2 separate regions of the Homo sapiens genome follow, and region 2 is linked to region 1. Evidence: fine-mapped expression QTL. Tissue or cell type: esophagus muscle. Region 1 holds a variant in brackets; the other region holds the start of a gene. All regions are shown on one strand. Distances are from middle to middle.

The links. PIP is the estimated chance that this variant, and not a neighbour inherited with it, causes the effect.
Region 2: it holds the start of RAD9B, and the variant in region 1 is fine-mapped to the expression of RAD9B in esophagus muscle (GTEx, PIP 0.98). The same link has a PIP of 0.9 or more in lung.

The regions. Positions count from the first base shown.
Region 1 is chr12:110,461,502-110,471,726 of GRCh38, reverse strand. GPN3 (GPN-loop GTPase 3) reads left to right here and starts at 3,470. Exons shown (of 8, transcript NM_016301.4): 1 at 3,470-3,571; 2 at 6,513-6,621. The coding sequence starts at 3,524. FAM216A (family with sequence similarity 216 member A) reads right to left here and starts at 2,882. Exons shown (of 7, transcript NM_013300.3): 1 at 2,709-2,882. The coding sequence starts at 2,851. It overlaps LOC124903016 (a long non-coding RNA gene), which reads left to right. Exons shown (of 3, transcript XR_007063459.1): 2 at 911-1,088; 3 at 1,276-1,438. RefSeq lists enhancers at 2,139-2,308, 3,229-3,358 and a silencer at 2,509-2,818. The variant C/G (reference allele first, on the strand shown) is at 6,152.
Region 2 is chr12:110,497,425-110,506,536 of GRCh38, reverse strand. It overlaps RAD9B (RAD9 checkpoint clamp component B), which reads right to left and starts at 4,206. Exons shown (of 11, transcript NM_001286535.2): 1 at 4,154-4,206; 2 at 2,661-2,731; 3 at 765-920. The coding sequence starts at 4,199. It overlaps VPS29 (VPS29 retromer complex component), which reads left to right and starts at 4,426. Exons shown (of 4, transcript NM_016226.5): 1 at 4,426-4,488. The coding sequence starts at 4,486. It overlaps LOC124903015 (a long non-coding RNA gene), which reads right to left. Exons shown (of 2, transcript XR_007063458.1): 2 at 6,712-7,796. RefSeq lists an enhancer at 4,458-4,597 and a silencer at 7,119-7,413.

The sequences.
Region 1 (10,225 bases):
CCAAGCCACCATATCGTTTTCTTGTATTCCAACTTCTTAATTCTACGCTTGCTCCTTCTAGTTTATTCTCCAACTAGCAACCAGCGTGATCCTTTTTAAGTAAAGTAAGATCACATCACTTCTCTGCTGGCAACCCTCCTGTGTCTTCCTTTCTCAAAGGTTGACTTTATAAGGTATGAGGGAGTTTTGAAGGAGTGATAGAGCTGCTCTGTATCTTTAGTGTGGCAGTGCTTACATAGCCATGTGCATTTGTCAAAACCCATCATATTATACATGAAAAAGTAAGACTTTAATTTGTGTAAATTATGCCTCAATAAACCTGACTTTAAAGAAAAAAAGTGCTGGGCACGGTAGCTCCCGCCTGTAATCCAGCACTCTGGGAGGCCGAGGCGGGTGGATCACGAGGTCAGGAAATCGAGACCATCCTGGCTAACATGGTGAAACCCCGTTCTCTACTAAAAATGCAAAAACTTAGCCAGGCGTAGTGGCACGTGCCTGTAGTCCCAGCTACTCAGGAGGCAGGAGAATCGCTTGAACCTGGGAGGCGGAGGTTGCAGTGAGCCAAGATCACACCACTGCACTCCAGCCTGGGTGACAGAGCGAGACTCCATCTCAAAAAAAAAGAAGAAAAAAAGTAAGGAGTTCCGGAGTTCCCATTAGTTAATAATGGGATTTTTGGCAGATCACTTCCCCTTTCAGATTAGTAAATATGACCGGAATTGATGATTTTTAAGACCCCTGCCAGTGCCAACATTGTATCATGTAGCATAATAAACCTGATTCTAGTTTGAAAATTTTATTTTGTATTTCTGGGAATATAAGCTTTTCATAAATTAGTCTTGGTTTGTGTTTTTTAATGGGGTTCCTTAAACCAAACTGAAGGGCATACTGTCTTTTTTTTTAATTGTAGTTTTAAGAGTTTGGATAAACTAAAGGAAGCATGGAGATGAACGACAGGCGGAGATAAAAGGAAAGGACAAACAACCTCTTTGTGCCTGTTTTGTCATCCATAAAGTGGGGATCATAATAGAACCTTCCAGGATTACAGGCTCATGCCCATCTCTACTAAAAATACAAAAATTAGCCAGGTACGTGGTGGCGCACACCTGTAGTCCCAGCTACTTGGGAGGCTGAGGCAGGAGAATTGCTTGAACACAGGAGGCGGAGGTTGCAGTTAGCTGAGATCGTGACACTGCACTCCAGCCTGGGTGACAGAGGGAGACTCTGTCTCAATAAAAAAAAAAAAAAAAATTCACGTATCTCCTGATACACCAGGATCCTGCAGTCGGCCAAGGACTGTGAAGAACAGAAAAGAAACCCAAGACTCCATCCCATCTTTAAGAAGTCTTCAGTAGCACCAGAGACAAAAAGGACGGCCATGCGGGCGGATCACGAGGTCAGGAGATCGAGACCATCCTGGCTAACACGGTGAAGCCCCGTCTCTACTAAAAATACAAAAAAGTAGCCGGGCGTGGTGGCAGGCGCTTGTAATCCCAGCTACTCCAGAGGCTGAGGGAGGAGAATGGCGTGAACCCGGGAGGCGGAGCTTGCAGTGAGCTGAGATGGCACCACTGCACTCCAGCCTGGGCAACAGAACGAGACTCTGTCTCAAAAAAAAAAAAACAAAAAGGATGGCCATGGGTGCAACAGGGGCCCTGACTGCGGGTTGTACTGAACGGCAAACATATCGCAGTTCTTGCTTTTAGGGAATAAAGTAGGGAGAGGAAGAGGAGGTAGAGTCTCCAGCAGTGACTTCAACAGCTCGCTGTCTTCACTATCTAGGAAATAGGTGTAAAAACCTGCTCAAAACGAAATAGATTTGTGAAAAAAGGAACTTCAGTGTGAAGAAAATGTCAAGATCAAGGCACCTCGGATATTCAGTCATTGGTCTCATTGGCGATTAGAAATCCTCGTTTGAGGTCGGGCGCAATGGTTCACCCCGTAATCCCAGCAATTTGGGAGGCCGAGGCGGGCGGCTCACTTGAGGTCAGGGGTTCGACACAAGCCTAGCCAACATGGTGAAACCACCTCTCTACTAAAAATACAAAAATTAGCCGGGCGTGGTGGCAGGCGCCTGTAATCCCAGCTACTCGGGAGGCTGAGGCAGGAGAATCACTTGAACCTGGGAGGCTGAGGTTGCAGTGAGCTGAGATCGCACCACCGCATTCCAGCCTAGGCAACAGAGCGAGACTGTCTCGCTCTCAAAAAACAAGAAAGAAAAGAAAAAAAAAGAAAAAGAAATCCCCGTTTGACAGGAAGGTGGCTCATGTCACTAGAGGGAAGGAACTGGTTTATGGGCCTGGATGCCCCCAGTTGAACCGGGGGACATCTTCCTCCTCTGTCCCTCCCGCCTCGCCTTTCGGTGGACACACAGTCCTGTGCCAGACAGCAAACGTCCCAGCAGGGCTCGCAGCGCCCCCTCGGGGCAGAGAGATGCACGCGGGCGACTGTCGCAGTCACCTCGTGGCCACTGCACCAAACGCTCCTCCGAAGCTTCCCTCAGAGACCCTCCCTCAACCGCGAGGCAGTCCTCCCCTCTGCCCTCTGTCCACAACAAAACTGCTCCCCGCCTCTCACTTGAGGGCACCGGGGCCAGCCCCCGAGACGAGAGGTCGGCCGCAGCCCTCCTCCACGGGGCTCACGACCCGGGGGCCTCACGACCCGGGGGCCCCATGCTGCCACCCTTACCCCGGGGCCCCCAACCTCACCCGCCGCCGCCACCCTCGGTCCCGGCCACAGCGGGCGGCTCTGCAGAAGAGCTACGCTCCGTCCAGTCGGACCCCGGACCCTGGCCGGGCATCTCCGCGGCGCCGAGACCGCGAGCCGTGTGCGGGAGCAGCTGTCCCAGCATCCCTCCCCCGACAGCACGCGTGCGTCAGGCTGCTGGTATTCCGGAGAGGCGGCTCGGATGCTGGCTTCTCGCCCCTCCGAAGCCGTTCGGACACTGCCCGAACAGCTTCGGGAGAGCGGGGCGGGCAGATCCGCGACCCCGGAGTTACGGTGGGGGAGGGGCAGGAGCGCTGCGGTCGCTGAGCGTTTGCACGTTTGCACCTCTCTGTGGAAGCAGTGCGTCACAGGAGGGAAATATACATGCTCCCCAAAACAAGAGGTGCCTTCCACTTCAGTATTCCAGATCCTCAGCACATTTGCAAATCGCGAGGGTCACCATACAGGTCAAACGTCTGCACGCAAACCACGGACCGAAGCACGTGGCGCAAGGATGCGGAGCTTTATCTGTTGTCCGTTATTACTCAGGTATCCAAGCTTAGACAGCATCCCAACGGCCGATTTCCATCAACTACTTTTGCGCACGCGCAAATCCTCTCCCTCGCCCCTCCCCTTTTTTCTCAGGACGCGTTTCTCACGGGATTTGGCCCGCGGGCTGCCCCGTAGTAGGAGGTGTGGTAGAACTGGAGGCGTAGAAAGAATGTGGATTGCGATTGGTTCGCACTTCACTTTCCCGGAGCTCAGTGGGCGTCGCGCGAAGGCTAAGGGAGTGTGGCGGGCGGCTCCGGGAGCCAACATGCCTCGGTATGCGCAGCTGGTCATGGGCCCCGCGGGCAGCGGGAAGGTGAGGATCTGCGGGGACAAGGAGAGAAAAGTAGGAGTTCGTGGAAGGCGGGAGATTGGGTCCTGAGGGAGTGAGCCGGCGGGTGTGTGTACTGGGAACCCTGAGACCCCACGCAACTCATTTCTGCTGTCTGGCTTCACGTTCTTTTTTGTTGTTGTTTTGAAAGGGAAATAATGGTAGTTGTTAATATTTATTGTATACTTAAGCCCCAGGCAGCAGATGAAACGCCTCGCTTATTTCTACAACAACCCTGTGAGAGAGATCTCATTTTTCTCATTTTACAGAAAACGAGATACAGAAAGGTTAATTAAGTTCTTTGCCCCGCAAAAAAATATAAATCCAGTTTTGTCTCAACTCCAGAATCCGGCCCTGTCTCGCTCCCAGGAGGGTAAAGTGGGGTCTCATTAATTACTGTTTCTCAGAACTTGGGACATGGACTTTTGGTATTTAAGGTGCTTTTAGGTGGTAGGTGGTACATGGACCCCACATTAAGGAGCATCAGATAATGTGTTAGGGAAATTGTTCCCTTTTCATTTCTCTTTCAGTTCTCAACTTCGCATTTAGGAGAAGTTGTGCTCGGTGCTAGTGTGTATCTTCAGCACTTCTTTAATCCCCAGGTCTTTTCAGAGAGCAGTTCTTAGTCTCAGAGCTTTTAATAGGCACCTGTATTTAGCTAAAAATAGAACATTTAAAGATTTTATATAATTTTATGTCTAATTTCACGTTATGTCAAATATAAGTGGTTTTCAGTTTACAGTAGGGATAAAATTTTTTCTTGTAAACAAATATTAAGGGAATGTTAGGAACATTCAAATACAGTGAGAATGGTGAAGATATGGATCAAATAACATATGTGTGGGAAACATAGCCAGGCGTGGTGGCTCACGTCTGTAATCCTATCACTTTGGGAGATGGAGGTGGACGGATCGCCTGAGCCCAGGAGTTTGGGACCAGCCTTGGCAACACGGCGAAACTCTGTCTCTACAAAAAAATGCAAAAATTAGCCAGGCCTGGTGGCAGGTACCTCTAGTCCCAGCTTCTCGGGAAGCTGAAGTGGGAGGATTACCTGAACCCAGGAGGTTGAGGCTGTGGTGAGTGGTGATCGTGCCACTGCACTCCAGCCTGGGTGACAGAGGTACTGTCGCAAAAAAAAAAAAGAAGAAGTGTGGAAACACTAGAGTCTGTGGAGGTGTTGTGTGGCCTCAGTCTTTAACAAACACATTGTTCTAAGCTGTTGACTTATTCTGGGTAAAAACATGTACATGTAACTAAGATACCTATGGCCTTTAACTTACCCAGAGTCTGTAGTCTTTTGGGGAAGACAAATAGATGACCTGTCAATTAAGATACAGTGTGATGTGGCCAGGTGTGGTGGCTTAAGCCTGTAATCCTCGCACTTTGGGAGGCTGAGGCCAGCAGATCACTTGAGCCCAGGAGTTCAGGGTCAGCCTGGGCACCATGGTGAAGCCCTGTCTCTACCAAAAATACAAAAATTAGCTGGGCATGGTGGCGAGAGCCTATAGTCCCACCTACTCGGGGGGCTAAGGCTGGAGAATCGCTTGAGCCTGGGTCAAAGCTGCAGTGAGCTATGATGGTGCCACTGCACTCCAGCCTGGGTGACAGTGAGACCCTTTGCAAAAAAAAAAAAGATACAGTGTGTGATGTATGGAGAGGGCATTCCAGACAGAGACAACAGTATGTGTAAAGGCACTGAGAGGACAGCATGATGGATGTTTTTTCTATAGTCTATTTTAATTTTTGGGCTGATTGTATTAAACAAGTATCTTTATAAGCTTTTGATGCTTACTATCAGAAACATTCCTTGAGTACGTTCTTTATCCCAGGCACTGTTTTGGGCCCTGGGGGTTGTATGGGGAAAAAAACATGCACACACAAAATCCGTGCCCTTGTGGAGCTTATCTTTAAACATAATAAGTCAATTAGAAACAATTATCAAGTATTTATTATGTACTAGGTATTGCGCTAGTCCCTGTGCTTGGGAAACTGAATAAGACACATCTCTGCCTTTAAACAGAGTATGACACAGACAAGTAGCCTAGAGACTTTTTTTTTTTTTTGAGCCAGGAGTCTTGTTCTGTCATCCAGGCTAGAGTGCAGTGGTGTGATCTCAGCTCACTGCGACCTCTGCCTCCCGGGTTCAAGCGATTCTCCTGCCTCAGCCTCCTGAGTATCTGAGATTACAGGCATACGCCACCACGCCCAGCTAATTTTTGTATTTTTAGTAGAGACGAGGTTTCACCATGTCGGCCAGGCTGGTCTCCAACTCCTGACCTCAGGTGATCCGTCGACCTCAGCCTCCCAAAGTACTGGGATTACAGGTGTGAGCCACTGCACCCAGCCCGAGATGTTAACATAGTACGGTAACAACTACATAATGGATAAAGAATTATCTAAACCAAAAGTTACAAACTGATAGCCACCTCCAGACTATTTATTGATCTTGGCGTTCTTTCATCTTGGAATGCTCTTCCCCTTAGGTTGGCAAACTCCTTCTCATATACTCATATCTCCCCTACTCAGAGACATCATCCCTGACCATCCTACCTAAAGCTTTGTTTG[C/G]ACTGTACAAGTCCTGGTAGAGACACTGTGTTAGGTGTTACACTATGTAACCAGAACTCTTCCCTTTAAATACCGCTTGTCACATTTAGAACAGTAAGGAGCCTTAGTGATTATGGAGGACATCCCAGTTAGAGACACGAAAATTGAAGGGCAGAGTGGAGAAGTAAATTCCCCAGAGGTACCCATGAGTCTAAGTCAGGTTTGAATCTGCAGCCCAGTCAGGTATCTTTTTCCCTTGTTGTCAGTCAGCCTCTTGGTTGATGAAGGCATAGTTTTGACCTTAGTGGATAGTATTCCAGAGTATGGAAGGTAGCACTACACTACCTGTTGCTTTAACCTCTCATGCCTTGTGACATTACAGAGCACCTACTGTGCCACCATGGTCCAGCACTGTGAAGCCCTCAACCGGTCTGTCCAAGTTGTAAACCTGGATCCAGCAGCAGAACACTTCAACTACTCCGTGATGGCTGGTAAGTCCTGAGCAAAGGCTCCCCCCACCTTCAGGAACAGTAAGGGCTGGGGAGGCAGTGAGTACTAGCTGCTTAGCACTGATACTTATTATAGTCTGGATCCCTGGTGTTATGGTAAATAGCATGAGCTTGTCATTTGGTCACATCTGTTCATGGTGATATGTGTGACAGTATCCTTTCTTGGTCTTTGATGTAAGATTTAAAAGTAAATGGGGCCGGGCGCGGAGGCTCATGCCTGTAATTCCAGCACTTTGGGAGGCCGAGGCGGGTGGATCACGAGGTCAGGAATTTGAGACCAGCCTGACCAACATGGTGAAACCCTGTCTCTACTAAAAACACAAAAAAATCAGCTGGGTGTGGTGGCATGTGACTGTAATCCCAGCTACTCAGGAGGCTGAGAAAGGAGAATCGCTTGAACCCAGGAGACAGAGGTTGCAGTGAGCCGAGATTGCGCCACTGCACTCCAGCCTGGGCAACAGAGCGAGACTCCATCTCAAAAAAAAAAAAAAAAAAAGTAAATGGACACTTCCCTCAGCACCCTTTCATTCTGTCCCTTTTGTCCTTAGTCCTGCTGTAGTGAATCATGTGGTATATTGCTGATCACTATAAGTCAGGAGCCTGGGTTTGTTTTTTTTAATTCTTTCAATTTGTTCATTCAAGTGTCTGTTGAACACCTGTTTTACGCCAGACACCGGAGTTATAGCAGAGAATAATACAGACATTATCCCTGCCCACACCAACCCTTTAGGAAATAGGCAATAAACAACATGATGAACATGTTACAGAATGTGATGACTGCAGACAGGCTCATGAGAAGTACTCATTGAGGTTGCTTTAGCTAGAATTGTCAGGGAGAATGGTGACTCTGAGGAGGGGATCTTTGAGCCTAGACCTGAAGGATGGTAATATGCTCCTCAGGCTGAGGAAAGTCCTTCCAAAATGAGGGAACATTTAGATCAATAAATATGCCAAGCTGGGTGCAGGGACATGTGCCTGTAGTCCCAGCTACTTGGGAGGCTGATGTGGGAGGATCACTTGAGCCCAGGAGTTCAAGTCCAGCCTGGGCAACATTGCAAGATCCATCTCTGAAAAATAAAATAAATAAATAAATAGCCTGGAGGTGAGAAAGGATTTGGTATTCTCCAGGAAAGCTAAGATGTCAGTGAGCTAAAGCGTAATGTCTGAAAGAAAGAAGTGGGTAGGGGCTAACAGGACATGATAAGATGGGATTTTATCCTGTTGTCAGTGGGGTGCCACTAGAGGGTTTTAAGAAGAGGAAAGGATTGACATTTGATACACGTTTTGGGGTTTTTTTTTTTTTTTGAGACAGGGTCCAGCTCTGTCGCCCAGGCTGGAGTGCAGTGACACAACCTCTGCCTCCTGAGCTCAAGCCATCCTCCCATCTCAGCCTCCCAAGTAGCTGGGACTACAGATGCGTGCCACCATGCCTGGCTAATTTTTATACTTTTTTTTTTTTTTTTTTTTTTTTTTTTTTTTTTGTAGAGACAGGGTTTCACCATGCTGCCCAGGCTGGTCTCAAACTCCTGAGCTCAAGCAATCTGCTGGCCTCAGTCTCCCAAAGTGTTGGGATTAGAGGCGTGAGCCACTGCATCCGGCCTTTTTTTGTTTTTGTTGTTGTTGTCGTTTTGTTTTTGAGACAAGGTCTCACTCTGTCACCCAGGCTATATAGTATAGTAGCCTGATCACAGCTCATTGCAGTCTCAACCTCCTGGACTCAAGCAATCCTCCTACCTCCCAAGTAGCTGGGACTACAGGCACACACTATCATGCCTGGGTAATTTTTGTATTTTTTGTAGAGGCGGGGTTTCTCCATGTTGCCCAGGCTGGTCTCATTGCCCAGGCTGGTCTCGATTTCCAGGCTGGTCTCAAACTCCTGGGCTCAAGTGACTCACCCAGCTTGACTTCCGAAAGTGCTGGGATAATAGGCATGAGCCACCGCACTTGGCCTGATTTATGTTTTAAAAAATAACTCAGGTGCTCAGATGAAAAATGGACTCTAGTGGGTTGAGAGTAGAAGTACAACCTGCATGGCTGGGCATGGTGGCTCACGCCTGTAATCCCAGCACTTTGGGAGGCCGAGGCAGGCGGATCACAAGGTCAGGAGATCAAGACCATCTTGGCTAACACAGTGAAACCCCGTCTCTACTAAAAATACAAAAAACTAGCCGGGCATGGTGGCGGGCGCCTGTGGTCCCAGCTACTGGGGAGGCTGAGGCAGGAGAATGGCGTGCACCCGGGAGGCGGAGCTTGCGGTGAGCCGAGATCGCGCCACTGAACTCCAGCCTGGGCAACAGAGCGAGACTCCGTCTCAAAAAAAAAAAAATACAAAATTAGCTGGGTGTGGTGACACATGCCTGTAATCCCAGCTACTCTGGAGGCTGAGACAGGGGAATCGCTTGAACCCGGGAGGCAGAGGTTCTGGTGAGCCGAGATCGTACCATTGCACTCCAGCCTGGGCAACAAGAGCAAAACTCCATTTTAAAATTAAAAAAAGAAGTACAACCTGCACTGCCGCTGTTGTAGTTAGCCAGGTGTACACCAGGACTAGGGTGGTCACGGTGGAGATGTAAGGAAGCAGACAGATTCAATATATTTTGCAAGTTGAATTAACAGCATTTTGTGGGGGATTGAACCAAGAAGGCATAGCAAAGTAAGGAATCAAGGGTGAGGTCTTACAGCTTTGTTCAGTGTATGATATAATTTCCTGTGGAGGGAGACAGGTCGTTTTAGGTTTGGGGACGTTCTCTTTGCACTCACTAAGTGCAAAGGGAAACTTCTGATTTCTGTTAATGAGTGAGCAGGTTGCGGGGAGGCAGATTGAAGGGAGAGGAGGAGATGTGAAATGCTTTTCTTTGAGAAAAAAGGCATTGTATTACTTTGGAACCATTTGGCTGCAGCAAACAGAAACCACTCTAAGCTAGCTTAGTTAAAAAGAGGACTTAGGATGGGCGCTATGACTGACACCTGTAATCCCAGTACTTTGGGAGGCCAAAGCAGATGGATGGCCTGAACCCAGGAGTTCAAGACCAGCCTGGGAAGCATGGTGAAACCCCATCTCTACAAGTCAATACAAAGATTAGCCTGGCATGCTGGCGGGTGCCTTTATTCCCAGCCACTCAGGAGGCTGAGGTGGGAGGATCACTTGAGCCTACGAGGTCAAGGTTGCAGTGAGCCATGATTATGCCACTGCACTCCAGCCTGGGCAGCAGAGTGAGACCCTGTCTAAAAAGAAAGAAAGCCAGATTGATTGTCCCAATTTGGATCAGTTATCTGTTATTGATTGCTGAGGGAGGGGGTAGGAAGGTGTTGTCAGTATAAATGTGACTGTGAATGAAGCTCAGTCCTTTGTGAATGGAGAATGTAGGTTTGAGCACAAAAATAAGTAAAAACCTAAGGTAGAAGATTCTATATACTGATTCCCCAAAATTAGTAAGATAACCATACCAGAATTTTTTAAGCCTCTCCTGTTGGTGATTTTTTTTTTCCTGAGACAGTCTCTCTCTGCCACCCAGGCTGGAGTGCAGTGGTACCATGTCATCTCACTACATCCTCTGCCTCCTGGGTTCAAGTGATTCTCCTGCCT
Region 2 (9,112 bases), 35 kb before region 1:
TGATTCATTTTAGAAACAAAAGTATATGCATTCATAAATGAACAGACTTGGCCAGGCGCGGTGGCTCACGCCTGTAATCCCAGCACTTTGGGAGGCCGAGGCGGGCGGATCACGAGGTCAGGAGATCGAGACCATCCTGGCTAACACAGTGAAACCCCGTCTCTACTAAAAATAGAAAAAATTAGCCAGGCGTAGTGGCGGGCGCCTGTAGTCCCAGCTACTCGGGAGGCTGAGGCAGGAGAATGGCGTGAACCCGGGAGGCAGAGCTTGCAGTGAGCCGAGATTGTGCCACCGCACTCCAGCCTGGGCGACAAAGCGAGACTCCGTCTCAAAAAAAAAATGAACAGACTTGGCCAGGTGCACTGGCTCACGCCTGTAATCCCAGCACTTTGGGAGGCCGAGGTGGGCAGATCACTTGAGGTCAGGAGTTCAAGACCAGCCTGGCCAACATGGCGAAACCCTCATCTCTATTAAAAACACAAAAATTAGCCAGGCATGGTGGCACACGCCTATAATCCCAGCTACTTGGGAGGCTGAGGCACAAAAATCACTTGAAACTGGGAGGCAGAGGTTGCAGTGAGCCAAGATTGCACCACTGCACTCCAGCCTGGGTAAGAAAGCGAGACTCTGTCTCAAAAATAATAATAATAATGAACAGATTTGTCCTGAATGCCATTTAAACTATTAAGTATAGAATACAGGTTATGTCCTATATAATGAATATTTCTACAGAATAAGAGAAAACCAGGGCCACTTATATTTACCTTCATTCCCAATTTGCATTTTAAATGCAGTGTTGTGTCAAGTTCATTTTCACTCATTTTCACTAAAGCTGACCATTGATAATGCTGAAAAAACACAGGAGAGAACAGGACACATCCATATGCTGACCGAGAAGAATTCACACATCTTAGAGCAAGCTAGAAAAATAAGATAAAAACTATTTAGGAGAGGTTGCGCATGGTGGCTCCCATGAACCTGTAATCCAAGCACTTTGGGAAGCCAAGGCAGGAGGATGGATGGAAGCCAGGAGTCTGAGACCAGCCTGGCCAACAGAGCAAGACCCCACCTCTATTTTTTTATTTTAAAAAAATTTAGGAGAAAATAAACTTTCTTTACATAATAGCTTGATTCAGAAAACGTCATTATGTTTAACATCACAGTTAAATGTGTTCAAATAAGAACATGGGATGTTAATTATGGACTGCCCTATATAGTCTGTATTGAATTTGCATATATATACATATATGTACACCTATAATATATACAGGACATAACCTGTATTCTATACTTGATAGTTTAAATGGCATTCAGGACAAGTCTGTTAATTTATTATACACCTATATATATACATACATATAGGTGTACATACATGTATATATACAAGCATGTACGTATATATAGGTGTATACATATATGTATATTATATTGAATACATATATGTGTTAAATCTAAAAGTTTACATGTTGAAAACATAAAATAGTAAATGCCTACAGGGGCCTTAACTTTCTTTTAATTTCTTTTTTACTTTTTTTCAAAAAACCAGCCTGTTGGCCAGGCTGGAGTGCAATGGTACCACCGCAGCTCACTGCAGCCTCCAAACCCCTGGCCTCAACCAATCCTCCCTCCTCTCAGCCTTCCAAGTAGCTGGGACTACAGGCACACAACATATCACCCGACTAATTTTTAAAATTTTTTTGTAGAGACAGGTAGTGTCTTGCTTTGTTGCTCAGGCTGGTCTCGAACTCCTGGGCTCAAGTGATCCTCCTGTCTCAGCCTCCCAAAGTGCTGGGATTACATTTGTGAACTACCACACCCAGTCATGAGCCTTAACCTTAATGTGTGAAATGGCAAAAGGCAATATATAAGGGAGTTGCAATATATAAGGGAGTTACAGCATATTGGCGGTCTCACACCTTGTCTAAGCGGGGAAACCATTACTCAGTTTCAGCCAACTACTTCCACTTGGGAATGAATGCAGTCCCAAAACTGTCAGGTCTTCTGAATTTTCAAGAGAAGCAGGAAAAATTTGACTCAATTTTTTTTTTTTTTTTTTTTGGGACGGAGTCTCACTCTCACTCTGTTGCCCAGGCTGGAGTGCAGTGGCACCATGTCGGCTCACTCACTGCAACCTCCATCTGCTGGATTCAAGCAATTCTCCCACCTCAGCCTCCCGAGTAGCTGGGATTACAGGTGCCCACCACCATGCCAGGCTAATTTTTATATTTTTAGTAGAGAAGGAGTTTCACCATGTGGACCAGGCTAGTCTCGAACTCCTGACCTCAGGTGATCCACCCACCTCGGCCTCCCAAAGTGCTGGGATTACAGGCGTGAGCCATCGCGCCCGGCCTCAATTTTTAAATGTTGGAAATTATTTCAAATTAAAAAAAAAAAAAAACAGTGCAGGCCAACAAACATTCCTGCAGACCGTAGCTAGTCTCTTAACTACCAGTTTGTGACTTCCAGTTTAAATCAATCAAGCTTATCTGCATATTTTCAACTTTACCATGCTCTAAGTGTATTCAGATATGTAAAATAAAGATAAACAGTGAAAGGGATAATTACAATTTCTGGATTTCCTAGTTAACATTCAATCTGGACTGGGATCTTTAAACATCTCCTCTTGCCTTGATACGTGATCTGTTAACTTTCTTACTTACACCTTTTTTAGATGGGTCTAGCCAGAACTCGTCACTAATTCGTGATAGAGCTTGAACTGCTTTCCCAAATACTATGGAGAAAAAGAAAGGTGATGCTTATATTCTTTCCCTCTAACAATAAAAACAAATCACAAGACTAGTTCAGCATTCAGAGGACTCAAGAGAAATTCAAAAATAACAGTATCTTACAGACTAATGCTACATTACTTTAATACAGTATAATACCCTTGGCAAAATGCCAGACACATAGTCAGGGCTCAATAAATTTGTAGTGTGTGAAATGATAAAATTGACCGAAATTTGTCCTTCTATATGTTTACAGTGTTGCATGGAGCTACTGTGCAAACCAATTTCCATACTAATGTATTTTACAACTTGATTTAGATAAATGTATTTGACCCCCCAAAAACTGTGAAAACAGTGCATGGAGAAGATAATCTGAAGTGGTTTTAATAGCTTGATAGCCAAGTCACAACAAGTCATGAGAGAGAAATTAGGGGTATCCAACATACATCTCTGATGTTTGAGGGCAGCCAGATTTCCCCACCACAGAACACATTTAGGGCTGGAAAACACACTAGTCTGATCCCGTACGACATTGTTAATGTTCTTTTTATTTTTTATTTTTTTTGAGACAGAGTCTCACTCTGACACTCAGGCTGGAGTGCAGTGGCACGAGCTCAACTCACTGCAGCCTCAACCTCCCGGGCTCAATCGATCCTCTCGCCTCAGCCTTCCAAGTAGCTTGGGATTACAGGCGCCCACCACTAAGCCCGGCTAATTTTTGTATGTTTAGTAGAGACGGGGTTTCATCATGTTGGTCAGGGTGGTCTCGAACTCCCGACCTAAGGTGATCCACCCGCCTTGGCCTCCCAAAGTGCTAGGATTACAGGCGTGAGCCACTGCACCCGGCCTAACTTCCATTTTGAAAGCGCCGTTTACAACACTAATAGTTCTTGTACATTCCATCTATTACTGGGCTCTTTACACGCATTTCCATTTCATTGCCTCCAAACAAACTCTGTGACGAAGGTGCTGTCATTACCCCTGTTTCCGTTTTAGAAACTGAGCCCCAAAGAGATTTAGTGACTTTTCCAAGTTCATACATTTTTAAAAATGGTAGAATCTGGGGAAAAAAAAAACCAGGTTAATGCTGTTCTCTTGGCACAAAAATACTTTTACTGTCCAAGCATTATTTTTTTCTCTCAACTCTTCCCCATGCAGTCCTCAGCATCCCGAGTTTGTGGCCCGATGGTACAACTCTATTTCCCGGATACCACCCATATTACATCTGCCTCTAAGTCACACGAGATGGGTCCTCATCCTCCCCTCAGAAGTTAACAGGGACTTGAGTGGGTGGGGCTGTGGCCAGGGCGTGCGTCCTCAGTCATTGCGCAAAAAGGCAAAGAGGAAAAATTAGACAATGGTAGGGACGACCTATTAACGTCTGCTTTTCTCTCTGCTAAATGGGAAGACAACAAAGGCCGCTCCACCTTTCACCTGACTGCCGCTCATCACGCACTTCAGCATGGCTGCCATCCGCCCTAAAAAGCAGGCTCGGAAGGCGCGCCTCAGCTCGACGGCCCAGGTGCCCGGATGTTGCCCGCGCTTTTCAAAGCTTCGCGATCTCGTCTCTGCACTCTACCACCCCGCCTCCACAAGTTCCCAAACGGCTTTACGGCGGAGAAGGGTCCGTGCGGGCCTCCGTACGGCAATTTCTGTCTCCCTCTGCTCTCATTGGTTGCGGTTAAGTGGGCGGGTCGCCGAGGAGCCTGAGGAAGAGGGCGGCGACGGTGGTGGTGACTGAGCGGAGCCCGGTGACAGGATGGTGAGGGCTGCAGTTGCGGCGACCAAGGCCTGGCTCTCGGGTGGGGTGCTGCGTTGTTGGGAGCCGTGGGGAGGCCGAGGGCGAGGAATTGGGAAATCCCGGAGGCCTCGGCGTCAGGGCCCAGGCGCTGGCCTGGGAAAGGCCCAGAAGAGGTCTAGGGAAGGAAGGGAGCGGCCACCTCTGGGTGCGGCTGGCCTAGGTCTCGTATCCCGGCCCCAAGGGGCCAGAGGCCATCCAAGGGGTAAAAAGGCCCCTCTAGCAGCCCGACCTGTCACGAGACACGCACGCCCGAGCCAGGGAAGGCCTTTGGTCCTATACCTCGAATGTTCCGGGGATAGGGGCACGGTCCTCCGTTTCCAGACGGTTCCTACTCGTTTCCCGCAAAAAGCACCTCCCGCTGGTTGGGGTGTAGTGGTGGAAGCTGGCCTCTCGAATGCAGAACAGGAAGTAGCGAGCAGAATTTCGTACCCGTTTAACTTTGCCATCTAGGGAAAGGGAATAAACCACCCTCCTCGCTCCTGAAATAACATCTAGCTGCCATTGAGATGAGCAGGTGTGCTCTCAGAGGGCGGGATTTGGCGCTTGCAATTGCTGGAACTGTTTCTTTCCACGGGTTGCTACGCCTCTTTAGGGTAGGATTCCTTAATGATGTGTGAACTCATTGAAACTGTTGGGAAATTTTTGTGAATATACACATTTTTCTGGGGAGAGTGCCGGTGTTGGAGACTTACCTAGTCTCCCCCAGCCACCTTCAAGCAATCACCCCTTCACCCCCAGTAGTTTGGTGCCCCTCAGACCTTCCTACATAAAAACTGGGGGCCTCTACTAGAGAGGACTCAGAGCTGTAATCATATTTTCTTTCTTTCTTTTTGAGATGGAGTCTCGCTCTGTCGCCCAGGCTGGAGTGCAATGCCGCGATCTCGGCTCACTGCAATGCCGCCCGGGTTCAAGCCTCAGCTCCTGCCTCAGCCTCCCGAGTAGCTGGGATTACAGGCGCCCGCCACCAAGCCCGTCTAAATTTTTGTATTTTTAGTAGAGACGGGGTTTCACCATGTTGGTCAGGCTGGTCTCTACCTCCCGACCTCAGATGATCCACCCGCCTCGGCCTCCCAAAGTGCTGGGGTTACAGGCGTGAGCCACCGCGCCCGGCCTGTAATCATATTTTCAAAGGTGCCTTTGACTCTTAAAAAGTCAATTGTTTGGGGCAACCCACTCGGGTCCCCTTCCACCCTGTGTAAGCTTTGTTCTTTCGCTCTTCACAATAAATCTTGCTGCTGCTCAAAAAAAAAAAAAAAATCAATTGTTTGAAATGGAGCTGTGATTATCTTCATATTTGTGTTGATGGAGGTTGGCTGTAAAGGGACGTCTACCTCTGACAGGCATTTATTGCATTCTTTTTTATTTTTACAAGGAAACCAAAGAAGCTATGCATTTTTAAGATTATTACTATTGCATGACAAACAGCCTTTTCAAGAGGGGGACTTACAGACATGGCAGCCAGAGATTTATGGTGCATGCTTCTTTAAAATCTTTAATCTCACTTTTAATTTTTGCTTCTAAACAGACTCCAATTTAAAGTAATCCGTTTACAGTAATTTCGAGACACCTATCCATGGGAGAAGACATAATTACTTGCCATGGTTTCAAAATATTAATGTTTCTCAAGTTGTTTGAGAAGTGATCCCTCTTATTTAGGGTAGTTGTACTGGAACATCATTTTTCATATGAAATAGAACTGGGAAAAATTTAGCATTAGCCAGTTCTTTCATGATTAAAAGCATTTTATTTGGCAAAGGATACAGACGTTCAACACTCAGTACAGTGTCCAGAGTCTGTGGGCAGCAAATTCAAGTGTGGGAAAGGTCCAGTTTTACCTGAATAAATGTGTTTGTTTTTATTATTTTGTCTTCACCTTTAGTTGATTTGTTCAACACTTGATAATGTATTCATGGTGCTGTGTTGCATCAGCTACAAAAAATCACCTAGCCGCAGCATAATTTTCCAGCTACTAGAATTTTGAATGTAAGATAATTAACATCCATATACTTGAATAATTAAACCCTAAGAATCCAGAAAATGTTAGCCTTTCAGCTATTACTGATGATAAATTTTCCACAGTGTCTTGTAGAAATCCAAATTCATTATTTTATAAAATCTTATAAAAATCTAAACAGAATGGAAAACAGAGATGGAAGTCGATGTACAGAACAAGATTAGGAAAAGTAGGAGAAACTGACAAGACAAATTTATTAAAAAGTGTGTGTGTCATGTTCAAAAATAAAGCAAATATTTATTTTGGTATTGTTTTGAGCACAGCTGATTTTTAACATTTTCTTTCATAACACTCAGAAATCATTAACAATTGTTTGCTCATTTGGTATGGGTTTTTTGTTCTCTTTTTTTTTTTTGGTTTCTTTTTGTTGCTTTCTTTTAACATTGGTCATGTTTCACCCTTTTTTTTTCATCCCCCCTGTCTGCAATCAACTTCTTCATTCCACTAAGGCTGGGCACAGAGTAAGTTTCTTCACTTAGCTCCTACTAACAGTGGTGGTTGGGTGGCTGTTTACTGACTGGATTTCTTACCCTTTTAAGGTCTGTTGAAAGGAAGTAACCGAATTCCCATGCTTTGATTGGGTTGGCTCTTTATTTTAATTTAATAAGACTGCCATTTCCAGGATCTTTTGCTTTCTTAAAGGACTCTATCATCTATGTCTATCCCGATTTGTCAAAGTGTGGAATTTGGGCGGGAACATGTTTCAAAGTATGACACGTGTTATGTAACACTATTTCCCCATAACTTTGTCATCAGCAGGAAACCAGAGGATTCTGTCCTAGTAAGGATCCCTACTAATTTGAAATGATTGTGTGGTCATTCATACAGTTATATCTTTAGACTGCTAATAGTCTTGAGTCTTGGAGATAATCCACAGTACTTTATAGAATTAGGTCATCAATCATTATAAAGTACCATGTCTTACTAATGTTCTTTCTGGTACATTCAGATTGAACAGCTCATTCATTATTAGTACCAAACATTTCAACCTGTTGTAGACATATACCCTTTTATGAGTTTGGGGTGGTGGTTGTTGTTGTTGTTCTTCTTCTTCTTTTAAATATAGAAATCTATTATTTTTACCTTTTTCTCAAAGCAAGATTCCCATACTAACTATGTACTTCAATCCATATCAGAAGGAATCCCCCTCTAAAATGAAGATTGTTCTATATCCAGGTACTTTTATGTTGATTACCAGTGAGGGTGGAAACTTCATAGTGGTTTTTAGTTTTACAGATGTTTTGTCCACTGAGATCTGCATTGAAACAATTAATATAGGTCATACAACAAATACCTGCTGAAACTAGTCTTTATAAAGAAGAATCTTACTTAACAATTTTAAAGTGTGCTAATTTCATAACCTTGTGTTACTTTGAGATTACAAACTATGTCCCGATAACTCTGTGTCCTGGTAACGGTTCCTTTTCTTTGCAATAATTTTAATTTTTGTTGCAAGATAAATCAAGCTTCTTTTGGTAATCATTTTAATTTCATACATTTTGTTTGTTTGATTAATTTTCATTTACAAAGTCTGCAGTGGCAAAACTATTTTGTTTTATCCTATTAGCTATTTAATGGTTTCTTTGATAATATTAAAGAATAGTCATGCCTTTAAAAGCAGTTAAAGGGCATGTACATTTATGCATGCAATATCTGTAAAGGAAAACATTTTGTATAGAATGAAGGTGCTTATACTGATCAACATGAAGAAACTGATTCTGTTGGGCTGGGCGCAGTGGCTCACGCCTATAATCCTAGCAGTTTGGGAGGCCAGGGCAGGTGGGTCACCTGAGGTCAGATGTTGGAGACCAGCCTGGCCAACACGGTGAAACCCTGTCTCTACTAAAAATACAAAAATTAGCTGGGTGTAGTGGAGAGCGCTTGTAATCCCAGCTACTCGGGAGGCTGAGGCAGGAGAACTGCATGAACCTGGGAGGCAGAGGTTGCAGTGAGCCAAGATTGCACCATTGCACTCCAGCCTGGGCGACGAGAGCAAAATTCCATCTCAAAAAAAAAAAAAAAAAATCGATTCTGTTGTCCTTTGGAGGATAGATACTATTTTTTTGTTTGTTTGTTTTGAGACAGAGTCTCACTCTGCTGCCCAGGCTGGAGTGCCAGTGGCATCCAGTGCCAGTGCCAGTGCCATCTCAGCTCACTGCAACCTCCGCCTCCTGAGTTCAAGCAATTCTCCTGCCTCAACCTCCCAAGTTGGCTGGGATTACAGGCGCCTGCCACCGTGCCCAGCTAACTTTTGTATTTTTCTTTTTAGTAAAGACAGTGTTTTACCATGTTGGCCAGGCTGGTCTCGAACTCCTGACCTCAAGTATTCTGCCCACCTCGGCCTCCCAAAGTGCTGGGATTACAGGTGTGAGCCACCGCACTCAGCCAGACAGATACTATTTTTAAATGATCTTTCTAACAGTATTCTGTTAAATGGCTAAATTAATGTTGTTTCTCAAATCTTGAAATTTTTAAATTAGGCCAGGCGTGGTGACTCATGCCTGTAATCCTAGCACTTTGGGAGGCGGAGGCAGGTGGATCACCTGAGGTCAGGAGTTCCAGACCAGCCTG